2 linked regions of the Homo sapiens genome follow. Changing the gene in region 2 together with the main gene of any one other region gives a genetic interaction. Each region holds a gene or a part of one and is shown on either strand. Other genes may lie near its edges. The genes, in order: CDCA5 and SMC1A.

Region 1 (8,119 bases), on a different chromosome or scaffold from region 2:
GGGAACACAGCAGGGAATAAAACAGAGAAAACCCCTGCCCCATTCTAAGAGAAAAACAGGTAAGAAAATTCAGTATTATGTTAGCAGTATCAAGCACTACAGGAAAACAGAACAGGAGAGAGTGCTTGGGGCAGGTTAGAATTGCAAAAAGATAAAGGTCAATACATCCCTCACTGAGGTGACATTCAAGCTACAACTTGAAGGAGGTGTGGGAGTGACTCATGGCCAAGTTCTAGGCAGTGGGAACAGAAGGTGCAACAACCCTGAGGCCACAGTGTACTAGTCAGGGTCAAACAACAAGGAGGCCAGTGTGGCTGAAGTGAAGGCAAGAGGAAGAAACTGAAGATGAAGTTCAAGAGATAATGGGTGGCCAGATATGGTGGTTCACACCTATAATCCCAGCACTTTGGGAGGCTGAGGTGGGTGGATCACCTGAGGTCAGGAGTTTGAGACCAGCCTGGCCAACATAGTGAAACCCCATCTCTACTGAAAATACAAAAAAAATTAGCCAGGTGTGGTAGCAGGTGCCTGTAAGCCCAGCTACTTGGGAGGCTGAGGCAGGAGAATCGGTTGAACCTGGGAGGCGGAGGTTGCAGTGAGCCGAGATTGCGCCACTGCACTCCAGCCTGGGTGACAGTGCGAGACTCCATCTCAAAAAAAAAAAACACAGGGAAGCTGAACAAATTGGTGGTCACTGCTGACTACGACTTCCTCATTCTCTATAGCCAAGCAGTCACCCAGGTCCTGGCAACTTTATCCTGCTCGATGTACCATGAATCTCAGTCAATCAACAAGAATGAGTGGCTACTAGGAAAGGCAGAAGTCCCTACCCTCAAGGTGCCTGTGTTCTTAGAGGGGGGAGAGAAAGACATCAAACATGCAAGAAAATACACTATAAGAACTGATAAGGACCAGGCACAGTGGCTCATGCCTGTAATCCCAACACTTTAGGAGGCCAAGGTGGGAGGATCACTTGAGCCCAGGAGTTCAAGACCGGCCTGGGCAACATAGTGAACCCTCATCTCTATAAAAAAAATTAGAGAAAACATCAAAAAATTAGCCAGGCATGGTGGCATGTGACTATAGTCCCAGCTACTTGAGAGGCTGAGGAGGGAAGATCTGCAGTGAGCCGAAATCTCGCCACTGCACTCCAGCCTGGGTGGCAGAACAAGACCCTATCTTTAGAACTGGTAAGGCCTAAGAGAATTACATAGAGAAATGTGACAGCAATAGGGTAAGGGTGGTCAGGGAAGGCCACTGGGGGGCAATTCCCTCTGAACCCAGTACTGTATATCATCCTGGCTTTAGCTCACGCCCTTGGCTTCATGCTTCAGAATTCCTGGACTTCACGTCATTCCACTGGTCTTGGAGCCCCAGGGTAGCCCTTCTCAAAACCATTCTCCCCACAGCCCCCAGAGGGGTCTTTCTTAAAACACTCAAACTTGACTCGGTCACTACCTTACCCAGAACTCTCCAAAGGCTGCCCACAGACCCAAGAATGATGCCCAAGCCATGAGTGTGGCTTTTGTGCCTCATCAGGATCTGCTCTGCCTTAGGGTGCTTCCTCCCCTGCTGAGGTCTGCTGCAGACACTAAACAAATTGCTATTCCCCGAACCTTGATTTTTCTTTAAATTCCCAATCTCTGCAAACATGGCTTCTTTGACCTGGAACAAACCTACTTGTCTTTTTTTTTTTTTTTTTTTTTGAGATGGAGTCTCGCTTTGTCACCCAGGCTGGAGTGCAGGGGCGTGATCTCGGCCCACTGCAACCTCCGCCTCCTGGGTTTAAGCGATTCTCCTGCCTCAGCCTCCTGAGTAGCTGGGACTATAGGCACGTGCCACCATGCCTGGCTAATTTTGTATTTTTAGTAGACACAGGGTTTCACCACGTTGGCCAGGCTGGTCTTAAACTCTTGACCACAAGTGATCTGCCCGCCTCAGCCTCCCAAAATGCTAGGATCACAAGCGTGAGCCACTGCACCCGGCCTCTACTTGTCTTTAAAGACTCAGTTCAAATGTTTCTTCTTCCACGAAACATTCCCTGAGCCACATGGTCTGGGTTAGCTACCATCATAGCATCTAGTATTCCTTATTGCAGTCCCAGTACACAACGTTGCTATCACTTGTCATTGGTCTTTCTCCCCAGTTGACTCTAAGCCCTATCAGCTCTTCAAAGGAGTTCACATTTCTCAGTCAGTATGTCTTCAGATTGTCTATTAATGAAACATCCTTTGATAATAACTTCTGCTAAAACTGTAAAAATGTCATACACATGACTTATCTCAGAACACCCATACATGAAAGCTGAAGGCATAATGGATTAGAAAGGCAGTACGTGGAGTTAAGACATAGCTCAGCTTTTAAAGGAAGTTCCAGGAAAATGGTAGAAATACACAAGGCATAAAAAGTTAAGTGTATTAAGTCTTCAGGGAGTAATCAAGACTGGCAATGCATGCAGGTGCCCACAGGCAAACTGTTTTTGCAGTACTGCAAAACAGCTCCCTGGGCAGATGTGAGGAGCCAATGTGTGCTGTCCAGCTCTAGAGTGACCCAGATTCTACTTAATTAAGTAGATGAAAGTGAACTCACCCTAGGGCTCCTGCGAGGTGATTGGACAGCTGGGACCTGCGGGGGACAATACCAATTGATCACATAGCTGGTCCCCAGTTTTGCCCGCCTAACCACCCACAACACTCTCCTTAGCCTTTACCTCTACAGCATGGGCCACGATCCTCTTTAAGACGATGGGCTTTCTGACTGCAGCCGCACTGGGTGTCTGGAGAAGAGGGATGAACGTGAGCTCAACATTAGGTGAGGGGCCACAAGGGGAGGAAGTGAGAAATCTGGGGCTCACCTTCGGCCAGATTTCAGGGAGGATGCTCGGGAGTTCAGAGCCTGATTTCCGCTGGGACCTCCGCAGAGGCTTAGTAGGAGATGGGGCCCTTGGCCCTGGAAAGAGAAAAAAGTTAAGTGGTAGAGGAGGACTCTAGACCTTAGAGTCCAGAGAACAGGTTCTAGAGACAGCGAGAAGATTCCCAAACAAGCCCTTTTAAGGGCGCCTCCTCCGGCGGCGGCAGCGGGAGGGAAGAGGCCATCTTTCACCGGACTGCGTCCCCCAAACGGCTCGACCTCACGTCTCCCGCGCGCCCTCCGCTCACCGGAGCGCTGAGCGGCTCCTCCGGACCGCGTTCGCCTCCCAGACATAACTTAGGCTCCGTCTCGAGCTCCTCCAGCGCCGCCGCCCCGGGCGCGCGCCAACCGGGAAGGCCACTCGCTGCAAAAAACGTTCGAATTACCCGCCCTGCGGGAAAGGAAGCGGAAGTGACGTAGGGCTAGCGGTCTGCGGCCCTCGGAACCCCGAGTCTTTTCCACCCGTCTTCACCTCTAGCGGCAGCGGAGGCGTGGCCCAGGGGCGCGATGGCGTCATCAGCGCGCGCCGCACCCGGAAGAGACGTGGCAGCGGAGGGATAATCGGGGCGGCCGGGGCTGAAGGGAGAGGCGCAGGAGCCCTGGGGAGAGTGGTCCCTGCCCTTCCGCGCCTCGAGCCATCGCTACCGCCCTTCGGAACCAGTGCAGCGGCCGATCAGTAAACACAGAGACTGGGGTCTGTAGAGAAGGGGCGGGACTTGGAGGGGGTGGGGCTCAGGAGAGGTCTTGGGGGCGGGGCCGGTAGTATCGGGGAGCCTCTGATGGAGGGGCCTGGCCGGGGGCGGGATCCAGAAGGATTGAGGGGTCGCCGGAGGCGGGATTTATGCAGGGGGTGTTTCTCCGCATAAGGAGGGACAGTGGGCAGGAATCTGAGATCGGGGCGAATATGAGAGGTGTCTGGGGGAGTTAAGAGTGGAAACTGGGCTGGTGAGAGCGTAGTGGTGGCCACCAGAACCTGACTTCCTACCAACTCATGCCCCTTTCCCAGGATCGATCATGGGGCTTTGTAAGTGCCCCAAGAGAAAGGTGACCAACCTGTTCTGCTTCGAACATCGGGTCAACGTCTGCGAGCACTGCCTGGTAGCCAATCACGCCAAGGTGGGGCCTTCAGGGGAGCGACTGAGCAGGGCACTGGGTGGGCAAGGCGGTATTGGCTTCCTCCAAATCCATGAGGGGCCCCGCGCTAGAATGTAAGCCCCACAAGGGCAAGGACTTGATTTATTTTGTTCACTGATATATCCCCCGTTCCCAAGAGAGAGTCTGGTGCACAGTATGTGCTCAATAAATATTTATTGATTAAACAAACGAAAGGATGAGTCTCCTCTGTGGCTAGAGAAAAAGAGACAGTCGGACCTTGGGGTGATAGGCCGAGCAGCCCCAGCACCAGTTGTGACATCTCTCTCCCACTCCAGTGCATCGTCCAGTCCTACCTGCAATGGCTCCAAGATAGCGACTACAACCCCAATTGCCGCCTGTGCAACATACCCCTGGCCAGCCGAGAGACGACCCGCCTTGTCTGCTATGGTGAGGCCTTGGCACCTCGGGGGGATCAGGCCAGCCTCAGGGGCCAGCTTGGTGACTGGTTTCCAGGCCCTCCTCAAGCAGCAGGACAGTGAGTCCCCCGAGTCTCAGAGCCCAGATTCTAGTCCTGTTAAAGTTCCTTACCTGCTGTGTAAGTTCAGGCAAGTTATTCTTCCTTTCTAGGCCTCACTGTCTTTCCTAAAAATTAAAGCTCCTAGTTCCTCTTTCCTAAAAATTAAGCCCTGCCAATCTGGAGGTTTCAGCGAGAACCAGTCAAGCTTACGGGTATGCTGGTGGCCGTGACTATTAGCTAGCCAGACCGGCATGTTGCTTTCAGATATTCAGGATCCACCACTGATTCCAAGGCTAAACAGAGAGGAAGTGAGTTTCCCACATTAAAGTTAGCTAAAAGAAGTCAGCAGACATATGTGTCATGACTTTGACCTGAATCTGGGGTAAGAGCCTTAGCTCCAGTTTTTGAAGGAGCTCATGCAAGAGTCAGCTCCATATGTGTTTCTCCTTGTGAGTGCATGTGTGTACTTGCAGGCACTTAATGTACATTGTGTGTTTAAATGAGTGTTAGTGTGTTGATCTGTACTTGGGGTGAATGAATGGGTAAATGTATGTATGTGAACATATGAACACAGGTGTGTTGTGGGAGTGCAAGAGAATGCATGGTTGAGGGTGCCTGTTAGCAAACCTGTGAGTGTATAGATGTGTATGTGTGAGGGCTCCTGTACCCATAGTGTAGATATAGGGAATGCCACTTGTGTTTGATTATGTGCTTATAAGGACATGTACATTTGTGCCCAGGGATGTGTACATGTATATGTGTGCCTGTGTGTGTATCGAGGAACCTTTTCTGAAACTGTTCATTATTAGCCATTAGCCCAAAGAATATGATGAGTGCAGGCCCAGAGAGGACTCATTGAAAGGACTGAAAGGGGAGGTGGCGTTTTCTTCCTACCCAAACTTACCCCTGTGAGCTGGACAGCTTGGTAGCACCTGCCTGGACTTAGATGGTGGTAGCCAAGAAGACTGACATTTTAGGGAACAGGACGGGGAGGAGAAGGCTCTGGCACACACACATGTGTCCATATGTCCTGCAATGGTCTGGGGACTATTGCTAGGCTAGGAGCCCTAAGTGTCTTCTTCCTCATGTCTCTTCTCCCCTGTCTCATGGGCCCTAAGATCTCTTTCACTGGGCCTGCCTCAATGAACGTGCTGCCCAGCTACCCCGAAACACGGCACCTGCCGGCTATCAGTGCCCCAGCTGCAATGGCCCCATCTTCCCCCCAACCAACCTGGCTGGCCCCGTGGCCTCCGCACTGAGAGAGAAGCTGGCCACAGTCAACTGGGCCCGGGCAGGACTGGGCCTCCCTCTGGTGAGAGTCCCTCGTCTGTCTGACCATCTATCTGCCCTGGGCCCCACCTGAGTCAGATGGGTGGGTGGGGACAATACTAGGCAGCCTGGTGACCCAGATTCCTTCCTCCAGATCGATGAGGTGGTGAGCCCAGAGCCCGAGCCCCTCAACACGTCTGACTTCTCTGACTGGTCTAGTTTTAATGGTAAGTGGTGGCTTCCACCGACTGTTTGGGCTTTAGCCTCCCTGCTCTGCTGACAGCTCCCTTGGTCTGCAGTCACATGCTCTACCCCTGAGCTCTATGCACTGCTTCTGCTGACGGCTCTCTTTCCACCCACAGCCAGCAGTACCCCTGGACCAGAGGAGGTAGACAGCGCCTCTGCTGCCCCAGCCTTCTACAGCCAGGCCCCCCGGCCCCCAGCTTCCCCAGGCCGGCCCGAGCAGCACACAGTGATCCACATGGGCAATCCTGAGCCCTTGACTCACGGTGAGCCTGGGAGTTATCCAGGCCGCAGAAGGATAGGAAGAGGGTGGAATGGTTTGTATAGGGGGAGCTTGAGGATCCAGAGACCCACCCGGAGGAACCTTTCCTTAATCCAGGCACAGCCATTACCTCCTCACAATTCTGAGATGTTCTGTCAGACTGAGGAGAGCAGGTGATCCCCCTAGCCCTCCCCAAAGCGGCCAGTTTTCCTGAGTCTATTGATGCTAGTGGCTCCACCCTGTAGCCCCTAGGAAGGTGTATGATACGCGGGATGATGACCGGACACCAGGCCTCCATGGAGACTGTGACGATGACAAGTACCGACGTCGGCCGGCCTTGGGTTGGCTGGCCCGGCTGCTAAGGTACACAGGGTCAGGCAGGGCGGAATGCCAGGAAGGGGTGGAGAGGGAATGGGAGCCAGAGGTCCTGGAAGGGATGGTTTCATGACAAAAGGGGCTTGTTCTGGGGAGTAACAGTACCTGGTGCTGGGGCTGTGCAGAGAGGCCTTGGCTGTGCAGCAGAAGCTGTGTTTTGCTTCTCTCTGGGACTGTCTCTATGCCTCCTACACAGGAGGTTTGAACTCAGGCTCTTTGAGGCCCCTTCCCGATCTGACACCCCCTAATCTTTGTAATTCTCCCCGACGTCTGACACACTGTGGTTTCCAGAATACAGTCGTGCGCCTCAGCTGGTTTGAGCTGCACAATAACGCCCTATGGTGGCAGGTGCAGGAGTGATCATCCCTGAGGCACAGACGAGGAGATGGAGGCTCAGGAATGGGTGGTGACCAGGGCTTCTCTCCAGCCGCGGGGGCCACCAGGGACTGGGGCCTGACCTGATTTTCCCCTCATCCCCCCAGGAGCCGGGCTGGGTCTCGGAAGCGGCCGCTGACCCTGCTCCAGCGGGCGGGGCTGCTGCTACTCTTGGGACTGCTGGGCTTCCTGGCCCTCCTTGCCCTCATGTCTCGCCTAGGCCGGGCCGCAGCTGACAGCGATCCCAACCTGGACCCACTCATGAACCCTCACATCCGCGTGGGCCCCTCCTGAGCCCCCTTGCTTGTGGCTAGGCCAGCCTAGGATGTGGGTTCTGTGGAGGAGAGGCGGGGTAATGGGGAGGCTGAGGGCACCTCTTCACTGCCCCTCTCCCTCAAGCCTAAGACACTAAGACCCCAGACCCAAAGCCAAGTCCACCAGAGTGGCTGCAGGCCAGGCCTGGAGTCCCCGTGGGTCAAGCATTTGTCTTGACTTGCTTTCCTCCCGGGTCTCCAGCCTCCGACCCCTCGCCCCATGAAGGAGCTGGCAGGTGGAAATAAACAACAACTTTATTAAAACACCCGAGGCAGCCTTTTGCTTCCCCCTCCTTAGCCCTGTTCCGACTCCCCAGGCCTCAGTGGTGCTCCTCCCGGTACTCGATGGCCAGAAACTCCAAGGACAGGCGGTTGAAGAACATGGCTCCGTTGAGCACTGGGCGGGGGACAGAGCCCCCCATGAGCCCCAGTACCCTTCCCTGGCTACTCCTTGCCACATCTCAGGGTTCCAAAGCTCCCCGCTCCCTCTTGCACCCTCCCACTCCTGCCACTCACTCAGGATGGTCAGGGCGGAGAAGCAGACGTACTTGTTTTCTGTCATCTCAGCATAGAGTGACCCCATGGCAGCCCAGCAGATGCTGATCACCTGGGAGAACTGTAGGCCCATCCAGTGGGAGAGTGGCCCCCTCGCACAACAGTGGGGTTTCCATCAGCCCCTCGGGTCTCCCACAGCCAGCCCTTGCGTCCCTGCCCTGAGCCTACCATCAGGACGACCGTGTAGTGAAAGCTCATGTGGTC
Region 2 (7,266 bases):
GAAAATTGAGTCATCACACAATACATGGTGGCACAGGCATGCTAAACTCAAAAGAACTGAGCTGTAGCAGTCAGTAGCACAGTCACACTGTGAAGTGACTAGGTTTCAGCAAAACATCATCATTTGTTGCACTGAATTTACATGGTCAATCTAAATTTTGCTCATTTTGTTAGTATTTAATTTTTAACTTTGTCTTAGCATTTGGTTAAGTGTTCTAAGTATATATATTTATATATACTTAAGTAACATCACGGATTTAAGGCAACACTGGCAATCTTAGGGACTATTTTTCCTTTAAAAAGGGTCTGTGTATTACTAAAGTTTGAAGACACTACATAAATAATGTTACAAACGTAGCATGATTTGCTAAATTCCCACTTTCCAAGGGGCACTGAGTAGTTTCCAATTTGGAACTATAAATAATGCTTGTTATAAACATCAAAGTGTTTGCATAAAGCTTTGCCAGCATTTTGGATGATCTCCTCAGGTACTACTGAGTTACAGAGTATAAATGCATTGTGAAGCTTCTTGAAGGATGGTGCCACATTACATAAGAATACTCGTCTCCTGGCCAGGCACGGTGGCTCATGCTTGTAATCCCAGCACTTTGGGAGGCCGAGGCAGGTGGATCATGAGGTCAGGAGTTCGAGACCAGCCTGGCCAATATGGTGAAACCCCGTCTCTACTAAAAATACAAAAATTAGCTGGGCGTGGTGGCAGGCACCTGTAGTCCCAGCTGCTTGGGAGGCTGAGGCAGGAGAATGGCATGAACCCGGGAGGCGGAGGTTGCAGTGAGCTAAGATAGTGCCACTGCACTCCAGCCTGGGCAACAGAGCAAGACTCCATCTCAAAAAAAGAAAAAAAGAATACTGGTCTCCTATACCATGGCTGGTATTGAGCATTGTGTCTTCTGTTTTTACATTTTCCACGATGTGTTACAAAATACATTGTATCTAATTGTTGCTTTAATTTGCATTTCTTTAGTAAGACTAAATTATTTGTATGTGTTTAGGGACTATTTGAAAGTCTTCTTGAACTGTTTGTGACATTTATCCATTTTTCCCGTTTAGGTCTTGGTATTTTTCTTATTGATTTAGATGAGAAATTTCTAAGTTGTGGACATTATCCTTCTGTCTGTCGTATTTCTTCCCATTTTTCCTCCCAGTTATTAGTCTGTCTTTTAATTCTTTCCTTCCTTACCTTTTTGAGCTTTTCTATCTCATTTTCATCTTTTTTCACTGTCTGCTCCCACATGTGTACTTTATCTTGGTCCTCCTTCAGTTGGTTCTTTTCAAAATCCAACTGAATGCCCAAGCGAGTCTTCTGATTCTCAAACTCCAAACTGTGTATAAAGGTGGGGGGAGAATCACTCATAATCTCATCAGCCAGAGATAACCAATGTACAAAATCCAACTATGGGAAGAAAGGGAAACTAGACCCAGGGCTCAGGGACCCAGAGTTACTGATTTTCAGTCACAACTTGCTTCATCCATCCATATGCACATAAAACGGTCCCCTGAAGCTGAAGAACTAAGTTCCTCAGCCTAGCCCTGTGGACATGGCATAAGGCAGGGAAGATTCGGCCAAACCTTATTTATCCCCCTTTAAACAATGAAGACCCCAGCGCCCTCCAAGTTCCTACAAGGAGGCATAAAAGAGTCCATCTGATTCTACCAGCTATGGTAATTCCTATTAGGCTTCTATGTACTTTACATACATTATCTCTAATCCTCTAATCAACAGCTCTGCAAGTAGGCATTATTATCCTAATTTTACAAATGAGGAAAACTTAGGCCAAGAGGTAAAAGACCTTGCCCAAGGCCACACAGCTAGTAAATGGCACATGTGAGACTGAAACCCAGATTTAACACCAAAACCCGGGCTCTTTCTAGTATACCACCACTGCAACATAATGTAGTGGATTAAGAAGACTGGCATCTCAACTCTGCCACTTACTAGTAATGTCATTCAGGCAAGTTGGTTATACTCTCCAGACCTGTTTCCCCATCTGCAAAATGAACATAATAATAGTACCTACCTCAGGGTTATTGGGAGATTTTTAAATGAGTTAATATGTATAAAGTCCTTAGAACCACACCGAGTCCACGATAACTACTCAATCAATTTTAGTTACCATTATCACCAGGTATATTGACTGTACTCAGCTTACTTTTGTCCAAGGGCTTCAACTACAGCATCCCAACTTCTGCCCCAAGGTCCCAGAACCTCTTAAAGGGCAGAACTTGGATAGTACAAAAACATGGAGAAAATACTGGATTCCTGCTATTGTCCTCCTCTCCATCTCTTCAGAAACTCAAGAGTATGCAACCAGCATACACAGGCACTGGCAGGCCAGGCAGGACTAACTTCCAATTGCCCTCTCCAACTCCCAATATGGTGTGACAGATGTTGCCAGATGTCATGCTAGCAGCTTAAACCTATTAGCCACTATAATCCAAATGAAATATAACTAACTCTATAATTTTGAGCTATGCAATTTTATATCCAATCTCCTAAGTATGACTCACAAAGGCCTCTGTGATCCGGCCCCTGCTGACCTCTCCACCACTCCCCACCTTCTTCCTGACCCTGCTTTTATGCTCCAGACATTAAAAACTACTTAGTATCCAGAACAAGGCATGCTCTCTCACACTTCCAAGCATGCTGTTCTCTCTGCTTGGAATTCACTTTTTCTGTCGCTGCCTGGCTGGCTAAATCCTACTCACTCTTCAGGTCTCCAGTCATCACTCCCTGTTTTGTAAAACCTTTCCTGACGGTTCTGAGCAGGTTCCTAGTTTCTATTACACTTTGTTGGGTTCCTCCCTTTTTAGACTTTAGGTGCAGAAGCAAGTTAATCATATCCCACAGTTCATAACACACTTATCACCACTGCCTGGGCAAGACCCTTCCCTTGTCCTCTTTGTTTCAATCCCCAATTTCCATTCCCATTACCTTCCCTACTGTGAACATGCACCACAAAGTGACATACACACATGCATTCCTTAAAAATGCATATCCTTGTAAAATGTCTTAGTTCTAAAATTTACACAAATCTACTGTGTTATAAATTTTATTCTTTTTTCTGGTCAATACCAGGTTTATAAGTTATCCATTACTGCCCACAAATCTAGTTCTTGCTGTGAACTCCCACACAGTATTCCAGTCTATATATTCATTTGACTTATGCTCCCCCAGTAATGGCCATCTACATTGCCACCAATGTCCCACTACTACAAGTTATGCCAAGATGAATGACACTGAATGTGTATCTCTTTGGGACCCTATGGCAAGACTCTCTCAGGGATATATACCCATAGGTTTTATATATGTGTATATATATACATTATATATATACACATATATTTTTTTCACATACTACACAGGACATCTATAGATTTCCACCTAATACTGTCAGACTTTTAAATTTGCATTTCTCTGATTAAGAGGTTAGACCTCAATTCCTATGGTCATTAGCCACTTGAACTTCTCTTTCCATGAAAGCCTATCTATATTATTTGCCACTTTTTTTTTTTTTACTTTTTTCATTGCATTGGGTATCATAAGTACTTAGCCACATTTCCATTGGGTTTCTTGTCATTGTTTTTTATTTTTCCTGTTGTTGATTTGCAGTTCCTTGAAAATTTCTTCAGTATTTTGTATCTACCTTAATTACACCATTGATCACACTGTCCTCAAATTGATGTTTCCCCCAGTACTCTATATGTTTCCTGAGGAAAGAAATACAGTCTGATTCAATTCTATATCCCTTGAGACTGGCTTGAAGTAGGACAGCAATGAATATTTACTGTATGGGCAAAGGGCTAAACTGCTAACTGAAGCCCAGGGTACAAGGGATGACCTCCTTCAGCAAAGACTGTGTTGTGTTCATCTGTCTTACCTCCATCTCCCTTGTCCCCCTTCCAATACCTAGCACAAGACAACCTGGCACAAGGTAGGTACTCAACAAAGGTTTGTTGAATGAATGAATCAACTAAAGTGAGGAAAAATGAGAAGATTATTTTCTTCTGACTATTGTTTCAACCAAGAATTTCATCTCCCGCCTCCCTCCACCTCACGTTGCCCATTATGATAATAACAACAAAAGCTACTATTTCTTGCTCTTAGTAGATGATATGTAAGCTGCTAAATACCTTTTAAAAAGGTTAAAAAAAAAAAAAAGCCAGGCGGGGGTTGGGGCCAGGCGTGGTGGCTCATCCTGTAATCCCAGCACTTTGGGAGGCCAAGGCGGGTGGATCACGAGGTCAGGAGTTCGAGATCAGTCTGGCCAGCATGGTGAAACCCCATCTCTACTAATAAGAAAAATTAGCCGGGCATGGTGGCGTGCACTTATAGTCCCAGCTACTCAGGAGGCTAAGGCAGGAGAATTGCATGAACACGGGAGCCCGGAAGGTGGAGAATGCAGTGAGCCGAGATCATGCCACTGCACTCCAGCCTGGGCGACAGAGCAAGACTCTGTCTCAAAAAAAAAAAAAAAAAGGGCCGGCAATATGGCTCACACCTATAATCCTAGCACTTTGGGAGGCTGAGGCAGGAGGATCACTTGAGCCCAGGAGATCAAGACGAGCCTGGGCAATGTGGCAAAACCCCATCTCTACAATAACAACAACAACAAAAAACAAAAAAAGAAAAATTAGCCGGGCGTGGTGGCAAACATCTGTAGTCCTAGCTACTCAGGAGGCTGAGGTGGGAGGACCACCTGAGCCTGGGAAGGTCAAGATTGACACTGCACTCCAGTCTCGGAAACAGAGTGAGATCCTGTGTCAAAAAAAAAAAAAAAAAAAAAAAAAGGTAAAACAGGTAATCTTAAAAAAAAAAAATTATTTCACCTAATCCTCCCAACAATGCCATGAGATAGGTATCATTATACCATTTTGCAGATATTGCAGCTTACAGAAGTCAAGTCACTGCCAAAGATAACGAGTTGTGGAGCTGGGGTTGTAATCCAGGAATCCAGAAAATCAAGTTTAGAGTTGGCACTCTTAACCACTATAACTATGCCATACTGCCCTCCTGATTTCTGTTCTTTAAGGCCTAGCTACATAAACTCACATAGTTCTAAGAGCTGACCCTTGCCTATGACAGCATCTGGTTTTCCAAGGATGTCAAGCTAGAGGCTCAAGGGCATGCCAATCTCTTCTACCAATCCTCCCACCTACCGCTTCTTGGCGATTTCATTCTGCCGTTTCACCTTTTCTTCCTCAAACTCCCGGATGTTGCGCACACCAATCTCCCGACAAAACTCTTCAAACACCTCATCCTCTACCTGAGAAGAGAAGCCAGGGAGGGCATCGGCCCTTTTAGTCTGTCCTGCTTCCAGTCCCAGTCCTGCCCTGACACACACGCTGGCATGGCCCACACCCTACCAACCTGGTTCATCTTCTCCTTCAAGTCTTTCATTTCCCTCTCTCGGCTCTGAATGATCCTCTTGATATCATTAATGCGAGGCCCAAAGTTGGCTAGCTCACTCTCCAGCTTGGATTTTTCCTACAGGCAATGGGTTGAGAGGACAAAGCAGACCAGGCTCCTTGGAGAAAAAGCTACCTTGACTGCATTGGCCCCACAGTCAGGAAGGGCTAGCTCTCCACAACTGAGAGAACCTGGCTTAGCACTACTGCCCTAGTCAAGCCTCCATGATGTTGCACTGAAGCCATCACATGGCTTCTTCCCTGGCATCCAGTTCAGCCAGCTTCAATCCACAGGGCTGGGGACACAGTAAACATCATTAGGTATAGGTCCCAGTCTTTGATCTACAACCCCTGGGGGCAGAGTTGTTTCAGAATTCAGTTTAGATTTTTTGAGTTTAGAAAAAGATATATAAATACACACACTACATATAAAACCTCTAGGGCGGTCTGGGGAAGTAGTCAGTAAAAAAAACAAAACACATTAATATACCTAGAACAGTCCCCCCCCGCCCCGCCCACTACCACAAGCAGGGACTGAAATGCCCATAGCTCACTTTCAAAAATTCAAATTTGTTGAATGAATAAATTATGCTAACAATAGCACATAACATAAACTGAACACATGGTAGTCTTAAGCACTTTACATGTTAACTCATTCAATAATGACCCTATAAAGTAGGTATCATTTATTTATTTTGAGACAGAGTCTCGCTCTGTCACCCAGGCTGGAGTACAATGGCATGATCTCGGCTCACTGCAACCTCCACCTCCCGGGTTCAAGCAATTCTCCTGCCTCAGCCTCCCAAGTAGCTGGGATTACAGGCGCCTGCCACCACGCCCAGCTAATTTTTTGTATTTGTAGTAGAGACAGGTTTGGCCAGGCTGGTCTCCAACTCCTGACCTCAGGTGATCCACAGGTGATCCACCGTGCCCGGCCGAGTAGGTATCATCTTAACTCGCATTTCACAGATAAAGATGTGAAGGTTGACACTGAAAGGTGAAAATACTTGCCTAATGTCAAACTCAAGGCAGAGCCAAGCTCTGAACCCCTGGCTGTCTGACTCTATGCTATACCTGACTCCCTGCGGCAGGCTGGGAGGAGACGGGGAAGTGAAACAAGTTCCCCACCCCCAGAGAAACCTAGGCCAGGAATGTGTGGATGGCCTTTGGAGAACAGGGCTGAAGGCCAGGCCCCACCTGCAGATTCAGGGCTAGATGTCGTGTCTTGGTCTGTTCTAGGTCACTCTGGGAGTACTTGAGCCGCATCTGCAGTCCATGGGCCTGAGACTGCACCTGACGCAGCTCTGCCTCTTTCCGTTTTGCCTTCATCTGCTCCTGAAGGGAACAAGAAAGAAGGGCTAGGTGGTAAGGTGGTGGCTGACCTAGGCTTAGGACTCCCACTGCTAAAAACAGCACTGCCTGTGGCTTACTTTCAGCTCCTCTGTCAAGCGCTCCTTCTTCTCTTTCAACTTGTCTACTGCTTTCTCATCCCAGCGCCGTGCCTTGGCCTTCAGGTCACTGGCCCCACCAGAGATCACTCCTGACTTCTGGAATAGGGTTCCATCCAGTGCCACTGTCTACACACAGCAGGGGGAAGAGAGAAGAGGGGGAGAAGCTGAACAAATGAATCTCCAGTACTGAGCCTGTCCAGCTCCAGCCTGGGCAAGGGAATCCACACCTTGTGGCGCTGGTGGCCTCCAAAGGCAATGCGGCGGGCATCTTCCACGTTGTCACAGACAAGGGCATTGCCACAAGCATACTGCAGGGCCTTTTTGATATGAGGTGGCTCATAGCGAATCACATCAATCACTAGCTTGGCCCCCTTCAGCTCCCGGAGTTT

What was found.
Region 1: of SMC1A (region 2) and CDCA5, a change in one rescues a mutant of the other (synthetic rescue), as found in Homo sapiens cells (one study listed by BioGRID).

The regions. Positions count from the first base shown.
Region 1 is NC_000011.10:65,080,775-65,088,893, forward strand, and holds the start of CDCA5 (sororin), read right to left. Parts: upstream 3,267-8,119; 5' UTR 3,205-3,266; coding exon 3,159-3,204; intron 2,950-3,158; coding exon 2,855-2,949; intron 2,777-2,854; coding exon 2,711-2,776; intron 2,626-2,710; coding exon 2,590-2,625; intron 1-2,589. Other genes in the region: ZFPL1 (zinc finger protein-like 1), read left to right, coding at 3,925-4,026, 4,341-4,452, 5,641-5,834, 5,946-6,018, 6,154-6,300, 6,542-6,659, 7,154-7,340; CATSPERH (cation channel sperm-associated auxiliary subunit TMEM262), read right to left, coding at 7,681-7,757, 7,877-7,976, 8,084-8,119. UniProt on the Homo sapiens protein: Regulator of sister chromatid cohesion in mitosis stabilizing cohesin complex association with chromatin. May antagonize the action of WAPL which stimulates cohesin dissociation from chromatin.
Region 2 is NC_000023.11:53,398,389-53,405,654, forward strand, and holds part of SMC1A (structural maintenance of chromosomes protein 1A), read right to left. Parts: coding exon 7,105-7,266; intron 7,004-7,104; coding exon 6,857-7,003; intron 6,762-6,856; coding exon 6,624-6,761; intron 5,506-6,623; coding exon 5,389-5,505; intron 5,285-5,388; coding exon 5,178-5,284; intron 1,343-5,177; coding exon 1,201-1,342; intron 1-1,200. UniProt on the Homo sapiens protein: Involved in chromosome cohesion during cell cycle and in DNA repair. Central component of cohesin complex. The cohesin complex is required for the cohesion of sister chromatids after DNA replication.